3 separate regions of the Homo sapiens genome follow, and regions 1 and 2 are each linked to region 3. The links come from fine-mapping of genetic effects on gene expression. A gene starts in region 3. Each other region holds a variant in brackets. All regions are shown on one strand. Distances are from middle to middle.

Evidence for each region. PIP is the estimated chance that this variant, and not a neighbour inherited with it, causes the effect. A credible set is the group of variants that fine-mapping cannot tell apart.
Region 1: its variant is the best candidate, but not a certain one, in a credible set for the expression of WIPI1 in whole blood (TOPMed, PIP 0.74).
Region 2: its variant is the best candidate, but not a certain one, in a credible set for the expression of WIPI1 in thyroid (GTEx, PIP 0.89).

Annotation. Positions count from the first base shown.
Region 1 is chr17:68,411,330-68,418,603 of GRCh38, forward strand. The region is part of intron 11 of ARSG (arylsulfatase G); the gene reads left to right. It also overlaps a transcript of PRKAR1A not described here. Among named protein-coding and RNA genes, the nearest start is that of MIR635, 9.6 kb to the right of the region's middle. RefSeq lists enhancers at 1,792-2,450, 2,451-3,107, 2,603-2,652. The variant A/T (reference allele first, on the strand shown) is at 4,290.
Region 2 is chr17:68,426,174-68,431,173 of GRCh38, forward strand. It overlaps WIPI1 (WD repeat domain, phosphoinositide interacting 1), which reads right to left. Exons shown (of 13, transcript NM_017983.7): 9 at 3,823-3,987; 10 at 2,656-2,763; 11 at 962-1,080; 12 at 1-2. It also overlaps a transcript of ARSG not described here and a transcript of PRKAR1A not described here. Among named protein-coding and RNA genes, the nearest start is that of MIR635, 4.1 kb to the left of the region's middle. The variant C/T (reference allele first, on the strand shown) is at 2,609.
Region 3 is chr17:68,454,527-68,461,551 of GRCh38, forward strand. It overlaps WIPI1 (WD repeat domain, phosphoinositide interacting 1), which reads right to left and starts at 2,970. Exons shown (of 13, transcript NM_017983.7): 1 at 2,816-2,970. The coding sequence starts at 2,895. It also overlaps a transcript of PRKAR1A not described here. RefSeq lists silencers at 2,710-3,389, 3,126-3,412.

The sequences.
Region 1 (7,274 bases), 43 kb before region 3:
TTCTTGTTGGTTTCAAAGAACATCTTTATTTCTGCCTTCATTTCATTATGTACCCAGTAGTCATTCAGGAGCAGGTTATTCAGTTTCCATGTAGTTGAGCGGTTTTGAGTGAGATTCTTAATCCTGGGTTCTAGTTTGATTGCACTGTGGTCTGAGAGATAGTTTGTTATAATTTCTGTTCTTTTACATTTGCTGAGGAGAGCTTTACTTCCAAGTATGTGGTCTATTTTGGAATAGGTGTGGTGTGGTGCTGAAAAAAATGTATATTCTGTTGATTTGGGGTGGAGAGTTCTGTAGATGTCTGTTAGGTCCGCTTGGTGCAGAGCTGAGTTCAATTCCTGGGTATCCTTGTTGACTTTCTGTCTTGTTGATCTGTCTAATGTTGACAGTGGGGTGTTAAAGTCTCCCATTATTAATGTGTGGGAGTCTAAGTCTCTTTGTAGGTCACTCAGGACTTGCTTTATGAATCTGGGTGCTCCTGTATTGGGTGCATATATATTTAGGATAGTTAGCTCTTCTTGTTGAATTGATCCCTTTACCATTATGTAATGGCCTTGTCTCTTTTGATCTTTGTTGGTTTAAAGTCTGTTTTATCAGAGACTAGGATTGCAACCCCTGCCTTTTTTTGTTTTCCATTTGCTTGGTAGATCTTCCTCCATCCTTTTATTTTGAGCCTATGTGTGTCTCTGCAGGTGAGATAGGTTTCCTGAATACAGCACACTGATGGGTCTTGACTCTTTATCCAATTTGCCAGTCTGTGTCTTTTAATTGGAGCATTTAGTCCATTTACATTTAAAGTTAATATTGTTACATGTGAATTTGATCCTGTCATTATGATGTTAGCTGGTTATTTTGCTCGTTAGTTGATGCAGTTTCTTCCTAGTCTCGATGGCCTTTACATTTTGGCATGATTTTGCAGTGGCTGGTACCGGTTGTTCCTTTCCATGTTTAGTGCTTCCTTCAGGAGCTCTTTTAGGGCAGGCCTGGTGGTGACAAAATCTCTCAGCATTTGCTTGTCTGTAAAGTATTTTATTTCTCCTTCACTTATGAAGCTTAGTTTGGCTGGATATGAAATTCTGGGTTGAAAATTCTTTTCTTTGAGAATGTTGAATATTGGCCCCCACTCTCTTCTGGCTTGTAGAGTTTCTGCCGAAAGATCCACTGTTAGTCTGATGGGCTTCCCTTTGAGGGTAACCTGACCTTTCTCTCTGGCTGCCCTTAACATTTTTTCCTTCATTTCAACTTTGGTGAATCTGACAATTATGTGTCTTGGAGTTGCTCTTCTTGAGGAATATCTTTGTGGCGTTCTCTGTATTTCCTGAATCTGAATGTTGGCCTGCCTTGCTAGATTGGGGAAGTTCTCCTGGATAATATCCTGCAGAGTGTTTTCCAACTTGGTTCCATTCTCCCCGTCACTTTCAGGTACACCAATCAGACGTAGATTTGGTTTTTTCACATAGTCCCATATTTCTTGGAGGCTTTGCTCATTTCTTTTTATTCTTTTTTCTCTAAACTTCCCTTCTCGCTTCATTTCATTCATTTCATCTTCCATCGCTGATACCCTTTCTTCCAGTTGATCGCACCGGCTCCTGAGGCTTCTGCATTCTTCACGTAGTTCTCAAGCCTTGGTTTTCAGCTCCATCAGCTCCTTTAAGCACTTCTCTGTATTGGTTATTCTAGTTATACATTCTTCTAAATTTTTTTCAAAGTTTTCAACTTCTTTGCCTTTGGTTTGAATGTCCTCCCATAGCTCAGAGTAATTTGATCGTCTGAAGCCTTCTTCTCTCAGCTCGTCAAAGTTATTCTCTGTCCAGCTTTGTTCCGTTGCTGGTGAGGAACTGCGTTCCTTTGGAGGAGGAGAGGCGCTCTGCTTTTTAGAGTTTCCAGTTTTTCTGCTCTGTTTTTTCCCCATCTTTGTGGTTTTATCTACGTTTGGTCTTTGATGATGGTGATGTACAGATGGGTTTTTGGTGTGGATGTCCTTTCTGTTTGTTAGTTTTCCTTGTAACAGACAGGACCCTCAGCTGCAGGTCTGTTGGAGTACTGGGCCCTGTGAGGTGTCAGTCTGCCCCTGCTGGGGGGTGCCTCCCAGTTAGGCTGCTCGGGGGTCAGGGACCCACTTGAGGAGGCAGTCTGCCCGTTCTCAGATCTCCAGCTGCGTGCTGGGAGAACCACTGCTCTCTTCAAAGCTGTCAGACAGGGACATTTAAGTCTGCAGAGGTTACTGCTGTCTTTTTGTTTGTCTGTGCCCTGCCCCCAGAGGTGGAGCCTACAGAGGCAGGCAGGCCTCCTTGAGCTGTGGTGGGCTCCACCCAGTTCGAGCTTCCCGGCTGCTTTGGTTACCTAATCAAGCCTGGGCAATGGCAGGCGCCCCTCCCCCAGCCTCGCTGCCGCCTTGCAGTTTGATCTCAGACTGCTGTGCTAGCAATCAGCGAGACTCCGTGGGCGTAGGACCCTCCGAGCCAGGTAAGGGATGTAATCTCCTGGTGCGCCGTTTTTTAAGCCTGTCGGAAAAGCGCAGTATTCGGGTGGGAGTGACCCGATTTTCCAGGTGCCGTCTGTCACCCCTTTCTTTGACTAGGAAAGGGAACTCCCTGACCCCTTGAGCTTCCCGAGTGAGGCAATGCCTCGTCCTGCTTCGGCTCGCGCACGGTGCGCGCACCCACTGACCTGCGCCCACTGTCTGGCACTCCCTAGTGAGATGAACCCGGTACCTCAGATGGAAATGCAGAAATCACCCGTCTTCTGCGTCGCTCAACGCTGGGAGCTGTAGACCGGAGCTGTTCCTATTCGGCTATCTTGGCTCCTCCCCCTGGCTGTGGGTTTCTTATAGATGGCTTTTATTACATTGAGGTATGTCCCTTGTATGCCGATTTTGCTGAGTTTTAATCATAAAGCGATGCTGGATTTTGTCAAATGCTTTTACTGCATCTATTGAGATGACCATGTGATTTTTGTTTTTAATTCTGTTTATGTGGTGTATCACATTTATTGACATATCACATTTATTGGTATATGTTAAACTATCCTTGCATCCCTGGTATGAAACCCCCTTGATTATGGTGAATTATCTTTTTGATATGTTGTTGGATTCAGTTAGCTAGTATTTTGTTAAGGATTTTAGCATCTATGTTCATGAGGGATATCAGTCTGTAGTTTTCTTTTTTGGTTATGTCCTTTCCTGGTTGTAGTATTAGGGTGATTCTGGCTTCATAGAATGAATTAGGGAGGGTTCCCTCTTTGTCATGTGGAATAGTGTCAAAAGGGTTGGTACCAATTCTTCTTTGAATGTCTGGTGGAATTCTGCTGTGGATCCATCTGGTCCTAGACTTTTGTTGTTGTTGTTGTTGGTAATTTAAAAATTACCATTTTAATCTCGCTGCTTGTTATTGGTTTGTTCAGGGTATCTAATTCTTCCTGATTTAAGCTAGGAGGGTTGTATTTTTCCAGGAATTTATCCATCTCTTCTAGGTTTTTTAGTTTAAATGCAAAGGTGTTCATAGTAGCCTTGAATGATCTTTTGTATTTTTGTGATGTCTGTTGTAATATCTCCTGTTTTGTTTCTTATTGAGTTTATTTGGATTTTCTCTCTTCTTTTCTTGGTTAATCTTGCTAACAGCATATCAATTTTATTCATATTTTCAAAGAACCAGCTTTGTGTTTCATTTATCTTTTTTATTTTTTTGTTTCAATTTCATTTAGTTCTGCTCTGATCTTGGTTATTTCCTTTTGTCTGCTGGGTTTTGTTTGTTCTTGTTTCTCTAGTTCCTTGAGGTATGACCTTAGAATGTCAGTTTGTGCTCTTTCAGTCTTTTTGATGTAGGCATTTAAGGCTATGAACTTTCCCCTTAGCCCCTCCTTTGCTGTATCCCAGAGGTTTTGATAGGTTGTGTCACTATTATTCAGTTTGAAGAACTTTTAAATTTCCATCTTGATTTCATTTTTGACTCAATGATCATTTAGGAGCAGGTTATATAATTTCCATGTATTTGCATGGTTCTGAAGGTTCCTTTGGAATGGATTTCCAGTTTTATTCCACTGTGGTCTGAGAGAGTGCTTGATATAATTTCAATTTTCTTAAATTTATTGAGGCTCATTTTGTGGCCTATTGTATGGTCTGTCTTGGAGAAAGTTCCATGCACTACTGAATAGAATGTGTATTCTGCAGTTGTTGGTTGGAATGTTCTGTATATATCTGTTAAGTCCATTTGTTACAAGGTATAGTTTAAATCCATTGTTTCTTTGTTGACTTTCTTTCTTGATGACCTGTCTAGTGCTGTCAGTGGAGT[A/T]TTGAAGTCCCCCACTATTATTGTGTTGCCGTCTATCTCATTTCTTACGTTATTAGTAATTATTTTATAAATTTGGGAGCTCCAGTGTTAGGAGCATATATGTTTAGGATTGTGATGTTTTCCTGTTGGACACGGCCTTTTACCATTGTATAATGTCTCTGTCTTTTTTAACTGCCGTTGCTTTAAAGTTGGTTTTGTCTGATATAAGATAGCTACCCCTGCTTACTTTTGGTGTTCATTTGCATGAAATATCTTTTTCTACCCCTTTACTTTAAATGTATGCGAGTCCTTATATGTTAGATGAGTCTCCCGAAGGCAGCAGATGGTTGGTTGGTGATCTTATCCATTCTGCTGTTTTGTATTTTTTTAAGTGGAGCATTTAGACCATTTACATTCAGTGTTAATATTGAGATGTGAAGTACCATTCCATTCCTCATGCTATTTGTTGCCCATGTGCCTTGGTTTTTTTGTTTTTGCTTTTCAAATTGTATTTTTGTTTTATAGGTCCTGTGAGCTTTATGCTTTAAAGAGGTTCCATTTTGATGTGTTTCCAGGATTTGATTCAAGATTTAGAGCTCCTTTTAGCAGTTCTTGTAGTGGTGACTTGGTAGTGGTGAATTTTCTCAGCATTTGTTTGTATCCTTCTTTCATATATGACGCTTATTTTTGCTGGATACAGAATTCTTGGCTGATAATTGTTTTGATGGAGGAGGCTGAAGATATGGCCCCAGTCCTTTCTAGCTTGTAGGGTATCTGCTGTTAATCCTGATAGGTTTTCCTTTATAGGATACCTGGTATTTTTGTCTCATGTTTTTCTTTATAGGTTACCTGGTGATGTTTTTGCAATGAATTTCCCAGGTGTTCTTTGAGCTTCTTGTATTTGGATGTCTAGGTTTCTAGCAAGGCCAGGGAAGTTTTCCTTGATTATTCCCCCAAATATGTTTTCCAAACTTTTAGATTTCTCTTCTTCCTCAGGAACACCAATTATTCTTAGATTTGGTCGTTTAACATAATCCCAGCCTTCTTGGAGGCTTTGTTCATATTTTCTTATTCTTTTTCCTTTGTCTTTGTTGGATTGGGTTAAGTCAAAGACCTTGTCTTCGAGCTCTGAATTTCTTTCTTCTACTTGTTCAATTCTATTGCTGAGACTTTCCAGAGCATTTTGCATTACTAGAAGTATGTCCAATGTTTCCTGATGTTTTAACTGTTTTTTCTTTATTCTATCTATTTCCTTGAATATTTCTCCCTTCACTTCTTGTATTGATTTTTGGATTTCCTTGCATTGGGCTTCACCTTTCTCTGGTGCCTCCCTAATTAGCTTAATAACTAACCTCCTGAATTCTTTTTCAGGTTAATCAGGGATTTTTTTCTTGGTTTGGATCCATTGCTGGTGAGCTAGTGTGATTTTTTGGGGAGTGTCAAAGAGCCTTGTTTTGTCATATTAATTACCAGAGTTGGTTTTCTGGTTCCTTCTCATTTGGGTAGGTTATTATTAAGTCTTAGTAGTTTTGGTGAGCCTGGGCCCTTGGACTGTGAACTTCACAAGTGCTTCTTAGTCTATCCCTTCCCTCCCCTTAGGTGGAACAGCTAGAGTGGCTAGAGCTGGGTATCCCCCTACCCTTAGGTCAGTTAGGCTGTGAGAAAAACCTAAGTAATTTAAGCTCTGGTAAATTAGTTTCTCCTGAGGGCAGGCCTTGTTAAGAAAACTAGAATGTTTTGGTATATTTAAAAATTACTTTTCTCCTACCCCTTTTGGAAGGATGAAGAGATTTTTCTCCAGTATTTACTGTAAGAACTTGGTTGAGCTCCTGGAGGTAAAACTCACAAAAGTGTGTTGTGTTTTGGGTGCCGCGGTGGGGGGTGGCGCTTGATAACTGGGCCCCACTGGAGTTTTTCATCTCTCAGACTTGTCCACACTGAGCCTCCAGCAATTTGTCAATTACAGTTCAGGGCTTCCCTACTCCTGGCACTGGTTCTTGCAGAGGTTTCTGCTTGTGGGTTTCTGCTCTGTTAAGTTGTGATTGTTTCTATTTGCTTGTCTGTCTCTCTAATTTTGGGGGCAGTAGTTTGCCCTGTGACTTCACTTCTCCAAAAGACCTAATAAGAGTTGCTGAATTTTTTTTTTTTTTTTTTTTTTTTTTTTTTTTGAGATGGAGTCTCACATTGTTGCCTGGGCTGGAGTGCAGTGGCACGATCTCGGCTCCCAGGTTCACGTGGTTCTCCTGCCTCAGCCTCCCAGGTAGCCGGGATTACAGGTGCCCACCACCATGCCCAGATAATTTTTTATATTTTTAGTAGAGACGGGGTTTTACCATGTTGGCCAGACTGGTCTCAAACTCCTGACCTCATGATCCGCCTGCCTCAACCTCCCAAACTGCTGGGATTACAGGCGTGAGCCACCACACCCGGCTGAGTTGTTGATTTTTTAGTTTGTTCAGCTTTTTACTTGTTAGAATGAAGTGATGACTGCCGACCTCCTTATGTGCCAGACTAGAAACTGGGAGTCTCCTATTTAGTCGTCCTTAAAAATTGTAAGCTGGACATTGTTGGTGATGCATTGTAGCAATTCTGATTTCTGTTACCTGAGAGTGTTGATTTTTGTTTTCACTGGCAGCTAATCAGTAGTCAGTTCCCTTGAACTTATAAAGCCTTAGTTTTACACTTTGTTAGGACGAGTCTTTCAGATTTTTCCCTTGATCTTAGGCAGATCCCTCAGTCCTGGGACACAGTCTCTACTCCTAGCATGAACTGTTTGTCAAAGCTCATGTCACTGCCCTGTACTGGCAATGAAGAATAATCAAATTCTATTCCAAACTGTAGGCAAAGACAACAACTATTAATCTCTACTGATCAACTTGACTCTCAGCCACAGGTGGAAAACCAGTAATAAAAAAGGGTTGTCTAAAGGCTTTGAGATCTACCCATTCTCCTAAATATTTCAAATTTTATTTCTGGCCAGATTGGACCAGAAGGCTGAATCCTTAG
Region 2 (5,000 bases), 29 kb before region 3:
ACCTGGAAACCAAGAAAGAGACATGAAACAAGCACTGGGGATCTGCTTTTATGCCATGACCTGGCGGGTGGGGAGCGGGGGCTCAAATAAAGGGCAAAGGAAGCAAAGGGGCTGTCTGTCTTCCCCCTGGAGGTACTGTGCCTAGGACAAGTCATAATCCTCACCATCTGCCATCTTTAAGCCTGACCTGCCTTTCCACTTCAGATGCCTGAGGCATCCTACCTCTTTGAATTTTTCTTTGTTGAGGTAGGGTCTCAGTATGTTGCCCAGGCTGGTCTCGAACTCCTGAGCCTAAGGGATCCTTCTGCCTCAATTTAACTTCCTGAGTGGCTAGGACTACAGGCTCTTTGGAAATTTTAGTTTAGTTTTTATTTTTTGAAACAGAGTCTCACTCTTTCACCCAGGCTGGAGTGCAGTGGTATGATCTCAGCTCACTGCAATCTCCGCCTCTCTGGTTCAAGCAATTCTCCTGCCTCAGCCTCCGGAGTAGCTGGGATTGCAAGTGTGTGCCAACATGCCCAGCTAATTTTTCTATTTTTTAAGTAGAGATGGGGTTTCACCATGTTGGCTAGGCTGGTCTCAAACCCCTGGCCTCCAGTGATCCGCTGGCCTCAGCCTCCCAAAGTGCTGGGATTACAGGTGTGAGCCAATGTGCCTGGCCTCATTGGAATTTTTGAAGAGGCAAAGGGTTAACACCACTTGTTAGGAAAAAGACCGTATCGTGTGATGCCTTGCCAGGTTGAGGGTCCCAGGTTTAAAGGCTATTACCATGGCCTCACCTGTGAGAAAATAAAAAATTCAAGGAGAGCACTCCACCCCCAGGTAACAGTGAAGGGGGAAGGGGAGGGAGGGCACTCCACCCCCAGGTAACAGTGAAGGGGGAAGGGGAGGGAGCGTGCAGGGAGAAGGGGAGGGAGGTCACTGTTGGAGATGCTCCCCTGTTGGCCCCGTGTCCACCCACCTGGCACCGTGGAGGCTGAAGATGCACTTGGTCTGGCTACGGTCGCTGCATAAGACTGAGGTAAGGAAGGTCTGAGGTCATTTTCTTTATTCTCTTCTGTTGTTCCTGAGCCAAGCAAGCTACTTGTGACAATCAAGAGGAGGTGAAAGAAAAAAGAAATCATCATATATCTAGGACACCTTCCAAAGGAAAAGCATGAAGAAGCCTGTGCTCAGCTCTGTGGGTTATTTATTTATTTTTGAGGCAGGGTCTTGCTCTATTGCCCAGGCTGGAGTGCAGTGGCGCAATCTCGGCTCACTGCAACCTCCGCCTCCTGGGTTCAAGCGATTCTCCTGCCTCAGCCTCCCGAGTAGCTGCGACTACAGGCACCCACCACAGCGCCTGGCTAATTTTTGTATTTTTAGTAGAGACTGGGTTTCACCATGTTGGCCAGGCTGGTCTCGAACTCCTGACCTCAGGTGATCCGCCCGCCAACTCTGTGGGTTTAAATTGTAGACCTACCCACACGCTGCTGGGCCAGGATGAGCTGAAGTGACCTGCAACTGCCAGGGGCAGTCACACACCGTCAAAATGGCCTCTTTCTCTTACATTGGCTAGACAAAGATTAGTCCTCTGCTCTTCCCAGTACACACAGGTGAGGACATGCTAGCAAGGAGAGCAGCCATCGGTGGGGGGCGGTGGCAGCTCTGGTGCCCTGGCCACAGCAGGAGAGCTCAGTCTGTGCCTGTTCACAGAAGGCATGAGTGCTTTTCTTTTGTTTTCTTTTCTTTTTTGAGACAGGGTCTCACTCTGTTGCCCAGGCTGCAGTGCAGTGGTGTGACCACAGCTTACTGCAGTCTTGACCTTCCTGGGCTCAGGTGATCCCCCCACCTCTGCCTCCCAAGTAGCTGGGACTACAAGGCATGTACCACCATGCCTGGCTAATTTTTATATTTTTTCTTTTTGTAAGGATGGGGTTTCACCATGTTTCTCAGGCTGGTCTCAAACTCCTGAGCTCAAGCCATCCGCCCTCCTTGGCCTCCCAAAGTATTGGGATTACAGGCGTGAGTCAACATGACTGGTAGAGCACTTTTCAATTCCATGCAGGGAATAGGTTTTTTTTTTTTTTTATTTTGAGACAGGGTCTCACTCTGTTGTCCAGGCTGGAGTGCAATGGTGTGATCATGGCTCACTGCCTCAACCTCTCCAGGCTCAGGTGATTCTCCCACCTCAGCCTCCTGAGTAGCTGGGACTACAGGTGTGTGCCACCACAACCGGCTAATTTTTGTATTTGTTTTTGGTATAGATGGGGTTTCACCATGTTGCCCAGGCTGGTCTTGAACACCTGGACTCAAGCCATCCACCCGCTTCGGCCTCCCAAAGTGCCGGGATTACAGGTGTGAGCCGCCACACCTGGTGGCAGGGAATATTTTTGAACACCCACTGTGAGCTCAGGGCTGTGTTAGGAGCATAGGCTGAGGGGGAGACCATCTTGTGTGTTATTAATCCTGGCACTTTTCCAGATGATTACCACATGCTGAGGGCACCTGACACAGAGCCCGGTGCAGAGCACTTGCCCACTAGAGGTTTGCCACTGAGACTGCCAGTGAAGAACAAATCAATGCAAGGGCACTGAAGCTTGTCGTTCTTGGCGAAGGGACAACTCTA[C/T]ACGACCAGCTCTCGAAAGGCTGTCTTTTGAAAAGCAGTCTCTTCACCTGTGGGTTTTGATTAAGACACACTCTCCTCCATCCTGAGGATCCAAATTGTACATATAAAGGTGTCCACTGGATGACGCAACTAGCAGCCGTGGCAACTTCTGGATCCTAAGGGCCAAGGAAAACATAAACCGTGATGACAACGAAGATGGGCGATGGATTCGCTTCCAATGACAAAGCCCCCCTCACCCTAGCTGTCACCAGATTCTGCCTTTGACAAACCCTTAGCCCACTGATCTGGTCTGGGCTTCTGGCTATTCCTTTGCATTCTGGCCTTGGGATCTACTTTCAGGATTATTTCTTGTCTTTGAACGTGACAGTGTGGATGAGGCAAGTGAGTGTAGATGCTGCGACCCTGCGAGAAGCAATAGCTAGTGAACACATTAGCTCCCTACATGGGACGCAGTCTCCCTCTGACATGTGTCTCTGCCCTTAACCAAGACAGAAAGGGGGTAAATGGAGGATTGGCTTACTGTCTTTGCTGGTTAGTTTTGTGAAATTTTAAAAATGTTCAACTTTTGAATAAACTCCTTTAAACTTCTTAAAACATCTGTCAGCCCCATAGGAGTCCGAACCTAGAAAACAGATCTGGAGGCTTTTTACATAATTACATAAAAATAAGAATTGTTTTTAAGACAGTGTCATTATAACCAGAAGGCTAAAATTCCCATGCCAACTTCTGGCTGCCCCCTGAGAATCCGTATTGAAGTCAGATAGGAAAAGCAGGGGTTTGATTCCGCTCACCCTTCCTTTGGGGCAAGTTTTCTTTTTCTTTTTTGAGATGGAGTCTTGCTCTGTCGCCCAGGCTGGAGTGCAGTGGCATGATCTCGGCTCACTGCAACCTCCGCCTCCTGGGTTCAAGCGATTCTCCTGCCCCAACCTCCCAAGTAGCTGGGACTACAGGCACGCACCACCATACCCGGCTAATTTTTGTATTTTTAGTAGAGACGGGATTTCACCACGTTGGCCAGGCTGGTCTCAAACTCCTGACCTCAGATGATCTGCCTGCCTTGGCCTCCCAAGGTTCCGGGATTACAGATGTAAGCCACCGTGCCCAGCCTGGGGCAAGTTTTCTTTTTTTCTTTTCAGGTTTGGGGATTTTTGTGCTTTGGAAAAATACATTGACGAAAGTGTGGTCTTGTTCAGAGTGGGTGTCATTGTACGTACGTTGAGAGGGTACAGATGTTCCTCTGTCCGGAGAAGTTCAAGCGTGCAGTGGCAAAAGCCCTGTCCTGATGCATCATGTCTGACACCTGGGTAGGGAGGTAGTTGGTAGCAGCCATAAACATCTTTCCCATGTAGCCACTCCAGGTCGAAGGCTCTTCTGGTCGACTAGGGAGTAATGCACAGGCAACGATGGGACTGGGCTGCAGGCCCCACACGCACCCAGGAATCTCCACACCCAAGCGTCATTAGCCACACTCCCCGCAGCAGGGAGAGACTGTGCCTTAGCATAATGTTCTGCCCACTGAGAACAATCCAGGACGTATTATTCTGGCAATAACTAAAGAGCATCAAGGGCTTGTTTGTTCTTCAGAAGAGCCATTGTAAAGCTGTTAAAAGGTTCCCAATGCTACTGCTTTCCCCTATTAAAGAAGGCTTATCTGATGACTAGTCTGATTCCTAGATTTCCAGAAGAGAGTTAGGGTAGAGAGTGAGATGGACTTGATATCCAGGTACCATTAAATAAGCTTGGGACTGTGCCGGGCTCATGGAAGAACAGACAGATCTCAACGTGAAGGCCTCCTGAGCCAGACTGAGTGGGTAGCAAACCTCCGGGCAAGACACTTTGGGTGGTGTTTGATTGTAGATAACCCTGGAGTCACCCAGGTACCCAGCATGTGTAATGATGGAGATCATGCAAAGGGACCTGGGATGTCGCCTACAGTCATGGAACTTCATCCCAAGGCCTCTGCCAGACAAAGGGGGTGACTGTTCTGTTGGTGAGAGACAACCCCCAGCTCTGCCCCACACAGAGGGTGGCACATTGAGAACCAAGGTTGCCATATGAGTTCCCAGGAGCAGGCAACTGCTGAGAGGCTGCTTGTCTGCAGGATTAGGTCCTGGTGGGAAGCTCGCCCTGCAGCTCAGAGCTCTGGGAGGTATTCTTTACTATGCTACCAATGGGCTAGGGGGTCTTTGGACAAACCTCTCTGGGCCTTCATGTTCTCATCTGAAAGTGACTATGCTAGGTGCACTGCTAGGGTTCTGTGATCCGAAGCATCCTGAGACATCCTTGTACTGTCTGTCCCACAGCCCTGTGCTCCGGGCTGGGGTTTACAAAGAGGTGTACGATCCAGACCCTGCATTCCAGATTGAGAGAGCACGGGTGTATACAAAGAAAA
Region 3 (7,025 bases):
GCTAAGTAGCTAAACTGGTGGGTTAGACATTTGCAGCTGTGCACTTAGAACTGGCATTTAGTACCTAGACTGAGGTATTCATGATGACAAACAGCAACTGGAAAAGTAAGCCCAGAGCATCTTAAAACTTCAAAATGTATTTTGTAGTGTTATTGTTTTTAAACTTTCTTCACATAAACTTTTTCACATAAATATAGATGTGTTTGGCTGCGAAATGAGGTTTGTAAAGTTTGCAAGTAAGGAAAGAAATACTGTAACTAGAGTCTTATAACATTAATGCAAAGTGACAGCAATTTAAAGTAATTTTCAAACATAAGCCCTGCTCCTGGACCAGAAGAATTCTACATATGAGAAAATCACAGAGTGATGTTTTATGTGATGTTTTACGTGATTGATCAATGGCCACAAAAGACTCTGAATCAAGGAATTTAGACTTAGACCTTATTTCATCCATAAAGTCTTTCTGTAGAAACAAAATTCTAATCACCACTCATGGAAACAGAGCTTGGGACAAATATTTATCATTAATCAAATTTAAAATGTACCCAAAGTAGGCTGGGCATAGTGTGTCACATCTGTAATCCCAGCATTTTGGGAGGCTGAGGTGGGTGGATCACTTGAGGTCAGGAGTTCAAGACCAAGCTGGGCAATGTGGCAAAACCCCGTCTCTACTAAAAATACAAAAAATTAGCTGAGTGTGGTGGTACACGTTTGTAATCCTAGCTACTTGAGAGGCTGAGACAGGAGAATCGCTTGAACCCTGGGAGGCAGAGGCTGCACTGAGCCAAGACCACACCACTGCACTCCAGCCTGGGTGACAGAGCAAGACTGTCTCAAAAAAAAAAAAAAAAAAAGTACCCAAAGTGTATAGCACAAGTACCAATCACGAAGTATGAGCGTAGGGGACTGGTAAGGGTTTGCTGTTTTCACCTACCTTCTTTGGAAATACTGGATCCCAAATTCAGCCTACATTTATAGAAAAAGACATGGCAATACACCTAAATGTATTCAGTAAGGGGCTTGACTTATTTTAAAATCCAATGTCATACCCTCTGTGGCTCAAAGCAACTGACTGTGACAAGAACTTTTATTTATAGGCAAGGCAAAGCTGCCCAGCAGAGCTTCCATCCAAGAAAATAAAACTAACAGTAGGGAGTAAGGAAATTAACTTTCAAAGCACCCTACCGTTTTGAAAATAACATTCTTATTCAATTTCTGTAGAAAGCTGGGACTTTGCGTTATTTAATGGCTAGAGTATAAATTAACACCCTTTTTTGTCAAATCTAATGATGTTACAAAGCAGAATTTAGAACATTTACTACTTACAAGCAAACTAACCCCCTTTCTTAACTTGTGTTCAATTGGGAAGGAAAACATCACCCAGGCATTTCAACAGCCATGCCCTCTTGCAAAATGTTTCTTACAGAACATCAGGATTTTATCTATACCAGCATTTTTATAAACTGCAGGTCTCAACTCATGAGTGGATCCTAAAACGCAATTCAGTGAGTCACAAGCAGCTTAGAAAAAAAGGACACAGAAAATTGCACATGATATTTTGTGAATAGTGTATGTGTTATGGGTATTGGGTGATGTTGCAATACATATTTCGTATTGTGGATTGTGGTCAAGAAAAACTTGAAAGTCACTCAAATAACCAAGCTGTAGAGCTACTCGATTACATGATTACACATATGGGTTTTTCAAACAAAGGCATATTGTTCAGCACCGGGTGTTTTTAAACAGAAACATAAAGGGAATGGAAGCCAGGGTGGCTAATGGTACATAATGGCCTTAATTACACCACTGAAGGATCAATATTAGCGTAGCTCAGTCACCAGCAGCCAAGGCACAGAAACTGGTACAGCAGGAAGTGGGAAACTGGGAATCGGTCATCCCCGCCTGATGCTCAGGGTGCACATTCCAAAAAGATGATTCCATATGGTCCCCAGGGCTCGCTTCCATGAAAATAGGGAAAGAAACAGGCGTTTGCCTGTAAGTCACAGAATCCTGCAGATGCCTGAAACACACTTCAGCCCAGCTCCCTCTCAAAGCCCAAATGTGAACATCGAAGTAAAACATTAAAAATCCACTCAAAAACAACAGGGTGGAGCTCCTGTTTCCTGGAGAGAAAGCAGTCTGCGCCCGGGAAAAGAGTCTTGGACTCCGAGAAGGAGATCCTGCCTGGCTGGGTGGGCGATGTGAAAACAGCCAAAGAAATCCAAAGGTTTCTTCCATCCAGAGCGGGCAGGCACGATGCCCTGCGTCGGGGATGGGACAGGGGCTGGCCTGGCCGCAGGGATAGGCTGCCTCTTTGTCCGAGGCCCTGCCCAGATGCCACGTTGAGATGCTCAAGGACAAATGGGAAAGTTTTTCCTGTACTCTCATCTTCCTGGGCCCCAACTACAGAGTCCTGGGTCAACTTGCAACTTCCTCTCCTTTCTCATCTCTTTCTTTTGGCCACTGTCTCTCTTCCCCAGACACCCACTTTGGTCACTGGCTTTCCCACCGCCCTGCTCCCCCCATATTCCGTGGCCCCCGCAGCCCCACCACTCCCTTTGCGAACTCCCTGCTTTCACCCTTGGCCCAACCTTGTCGCTCTGGGAGGACACTGGGAGTGGGGTGGGGTGGGGGGTGCGGCAAACCCCACTGAAGGGGTACGGGGATAACAAGATCCCAATGCGTCCGAAGCAGACACCGGCCCTCCCGCCGAGGCCGCCTCGAGGCGGAAGCCACAAGCTGCTCTCAGGACGACACCCCTGGGTCCTGACACTCTGTCCCCCACCTCCCTGGCAGGGGCCGAGTCGCAGCTTACGTGCAGTCCTGGTTGAAAGAGAAGCAGCTGAGCGCCGACTCAACCCCGCCCGGGGGAGCGTCCGCGGCCTCGGCCTCCATCGGGGGCTCGGCCCGGGAAGCCGCAGCTCGGAGCCGGCGACAGCCACCTCAGCAGCCCGCCCGCGCCGGCTCCACGGGCCGGGTCGCCGGTCCTGCCCCGCCCCTACCCCGCCCCGTCCCCACCCCGCCCCTACCCCGCCCCGTCCCCACCCCGCCCCTACCCCGCCCCGTCCCCGCCGCGTCCCCGGCTTCGCCCCGCCCCTTCTCGCCCCTCCAGCTGGTCCCGAGGACCAGAGCACCTGATAGGGCGGGGCCCCTGCCTCCGGCCACCATTGGCCACGAGCCCAAGCCACGGCTGGCGGGCACCGCCCCCCTTGGCCAATCCGTGGCAGCTGTGGGCGGACCCGCCCGGCTGGCGACCCGCCCCTGGCTTCGTAACGCGGCTCTCCATTGGACAAAGGCGCGTGACGCAAAGGCAGCAGGCCCACGTGGCGGTGTTTTCATTGCCGGAGCCGCCCAGCTGGGAGGGAGAGGGAAGAAGGAATGCGGCTGGGGCCAGATCTGCTGGTTTCAGTCCGGCAACTGCGTCGGGGCCGCCGCAAGGGTGACAGGAGGACGCGCTAGTTCCCACCCCGCCCAGACCCCTTGCCATGTGTAACTCTGCCTATTAAACTTACAGAGTTTAGCAGAGAGCGTTAGACTCCAAAGCCCCACCCTTTTGTCGAGTCCTCAAGCCGCATTGAGAGAAGCTCCTGAAATGGGGCTGCCTCAGCCAGAGAGATAGCAAGTTATCTTATCCATTGCCGAGCGGTTGAGAACCCTCACTACTTGCCAAGCGCGCCGTACTATGTATGTCATCTTGAATTCTTATAAAACTTGTGTGGAAAATACGATTGTGCTCAATATACAGAAGAGGCAACTGAAGCTCCAAAGCTAAACAATTTGTCTAAAGTAACAGTAAATGGTAGAATGTCTGCATGTCTGCTTTCAAGACCTGTGCACTAAATAACTGCTAAACAGTAATTTGCAAAAACAACGTAGCACCTAGCATGCGAGATTCTAGGTTTTCTAACCAGGACAGAAATGACTGCAGCATTTGACGGAGCTGGAAGGTGGGGGGAAGCACCTTTGATCTGAAAAGTTACAAAAATGGCACAAAGTATCTAAACAAGACCTATCCGATCCGCAGCTGAAAAAAATGAAAGTGTGTGTAGGGCAGTGTAGTTTATGAAAGGGGTAACGTCTTGAAGATATAGCACAATTCAAAACTCACGTAATTCGAGATAAACCTTAACAAAGAATCTCTTTTTAAAAGCTGAGTACTGTACATGTTCCCATGCGGAATTACTGTCAATACGGTTTATGAAGCAGGAGCTCTGCCAGCTTTGGATTGTATAACTGCTGATGGATTTTTAATTCATTTTTTCAAATTTTGAGATGATATTTTAGTTATTGTTATATGACAGTCTCTCAAATCAGCATAATTCAAATTTATTAGGTTGGTGCAAAAGTAATTGCGGTTTTCCCCATTTCCCACTTTTAATACCCAGTTTATGACAAAGCTACTTTTATGTATGTGTATATATATATATATTTAACCTTGGACCTACAATAGATGAACAAAGGGCACTATTTCACCTAAACCTTTCTGGTTGGATTTCCGGTTTGTGTTTTCTGAGATGCAAATGTAACAGTTTCTTTTCTCAACTTTATTATTTTTTTCTCTCCACTGATGTAAAAAATAGTTCAGCTCATAGATTCACAGATGTTATTGCTCTTTGGCTGATTGTGAGGTGTTGTATAAACTATCAGAAGTGAATGGAACTGCTGTTTAGATACTTTGTGCCATTTTTGTAACCTTTCAGATCAAAGGTGCTTCCCCCCACCTTCCAGCTCTGTCAAATGCTGCAGTCATTTCTGTCCTGGTTAGAAAACCTAGAATCTGGCATGCTAGGTGCTACGTTGTTTGGAGAATTACATGAAGTGTACCATAAAGTTTTTAAAGTGTAAGCTGTTATTATCAGTTTGTTATTAAGAGTTTGGACTTTATGGGATAGACCTGGGAGCTGGTGTTAGTTTTTGAGCAGGAGTGTTTCATGATAAAAAAGCAGTGTCTTTGTCAGATAAACTTGGCCAGGGTGTGCAGAACAAATTAGAAGTGGGAAAAGATCTAGAAGTCTTTAGGGGACTAATGTGAAATTCTGGAAGTAAAGGGACAGGAGAGACTAGGCTAAAGTGATGAAAACAAGGCCAGAAAATTAGACCAAATCATAGAGTTGTTTTCAGGCATTGCTGTCCAGTAGATAAAATGAGCCCCAAATGTGAACTCCACATTGTAAATTTCAGTTTTCTAGAAGATACATTTAAAAAGGTAGAAATAGGCAAATTAATTGGAATAATATCATTTATTTAATCCAATGTGTCAAAAATATCATTTCAATATAAAGATAATCAATATAAAGTTACTAATCAGTTAATTCAGGTTTTAATTTTTTTTTTTTTTGAGACAGAGTCTTGCTCTGTCACCAGGCTCACTGCAACCTCTCCATCCCGGGTTCAAGCGATTCTCCTGCCTCAGCCTCCCAAGCAGCTGGGACTTCAGGCCCCCGCCACCATGCCCAGCTAATTTTTGTATTTTTAATACAGACGGGATTTCACCATGTTGGTCAGGCTGGTCTCACACTCCTGACCTCATGATCCACCTGCCTCAGCCTCCCAAAGTGCTGGGATTACAGGCGTGAGCCACCACGCCTGGCCTCAGATTTTAATTTTTTTTTAGAACTAAATATTGAATATCCGGTGTGTATTTTTCACTTACACCATATCTCAGTTCACATGAGCCACATTTTAAGTGTTCATGTAGCTGGTGGCTACTTTATTCTCAGTAGAGTCTTGAGGGACTAAATGACAGGCATGGCAACTGATGGGGAAGGGGGAGGGGCAGGGAAGAAGAGGGAAGAGTCAAAGCTGATTTCATGGTTGGGAAGGGGAAGCCCATTGGGTTGCTTTTAGAAACTAGATCTTCAGTCAGGTATTCAGGAAGTTGTATTTCATTTCAGACACTTTAAATCAGCAGCAGAACTGCATGCTTACTGGAATCAAGGTTTGGATCTAGAGCTATGGCCACGGGAGAAAAATGGTCACCTTCCCAGCCTCAGCCTTTCCTGTGAATGGTCCCCCTTATATGTTTCTTTCCAGGCTAATGGTCCATTATGGCACCAGCCATGTGGAAATAACATCTCAGGGCTGCCTCATCTGATTTCATTTTTCCCAAGACAATATGTAAGTCTGTATTTTTATATAAATCTGTGCCTATTTTATTAAAAACCTGTATTTGTAGGTAAATTTAAAAAATGATGAAAACTAATTCTTATTTTCAAAAAGTACCTCATAAGCTAAACTAAATACATCAGCTAGCTGGATGTGGTTTGTGGAGGGCTGGTTTGTGATTTCTGTTAGAGGTGTAAGCAGCCACTTTGAAGAGCTCCACCCTCAAAAAATTTCCCAGAAGTCCATTCATATAAAAAGCCAAGGGCAAGGTTATAAATAACTTAAGAGGTGCTGAATCCATTTAATGTCAGGCTGGTTTTTCTTTTTTAACATTCTAGTTCTGGGTTCTGTGGGAGAGGACACTCTTGATTTGAATGTTGGGCTTATGGGCAACCTAAGTCTTACAAGTTCTTGCAACAGCAATTTCACTACTAAATAACATCAGCAAAAGATAATGGGGTAGGTGGGGCAGGGGACAATGCTTTGTTCCAGTGGGAATAAGATTTTGGCCTTTCTCTTTCTTTCAACTGAAATTCCTAAATGTCTATCTTTTCCCTGAAAAACAAAACAAACAAACAAACAAAAAACTCCATTATTTCTAGGAAAACTTACTCGTAAGTAACTAGTAAGTTACTTACCAGTCAGCAAAATCTGGGAAAATAAAGCTGGGCTCTGGGAATTAAAAACATGTTTGGTAATACAAAATTGCAGGCCACAGTTCATCTAATGGAGAGACTTCTTATTTGTATAACAATCAGGTTGTAATTTTAAAATGCTGATTAGGGCATGCACAGGGCATTCACAGGGGAAGGTGGAAATGAGACATCCTGTCTGATGCAACACTCCTGTCACCCCATATGGTCATTCATGGCACCCAACCATCTACAATTAAAGTAACTACTAGGTGAACAAACACCACT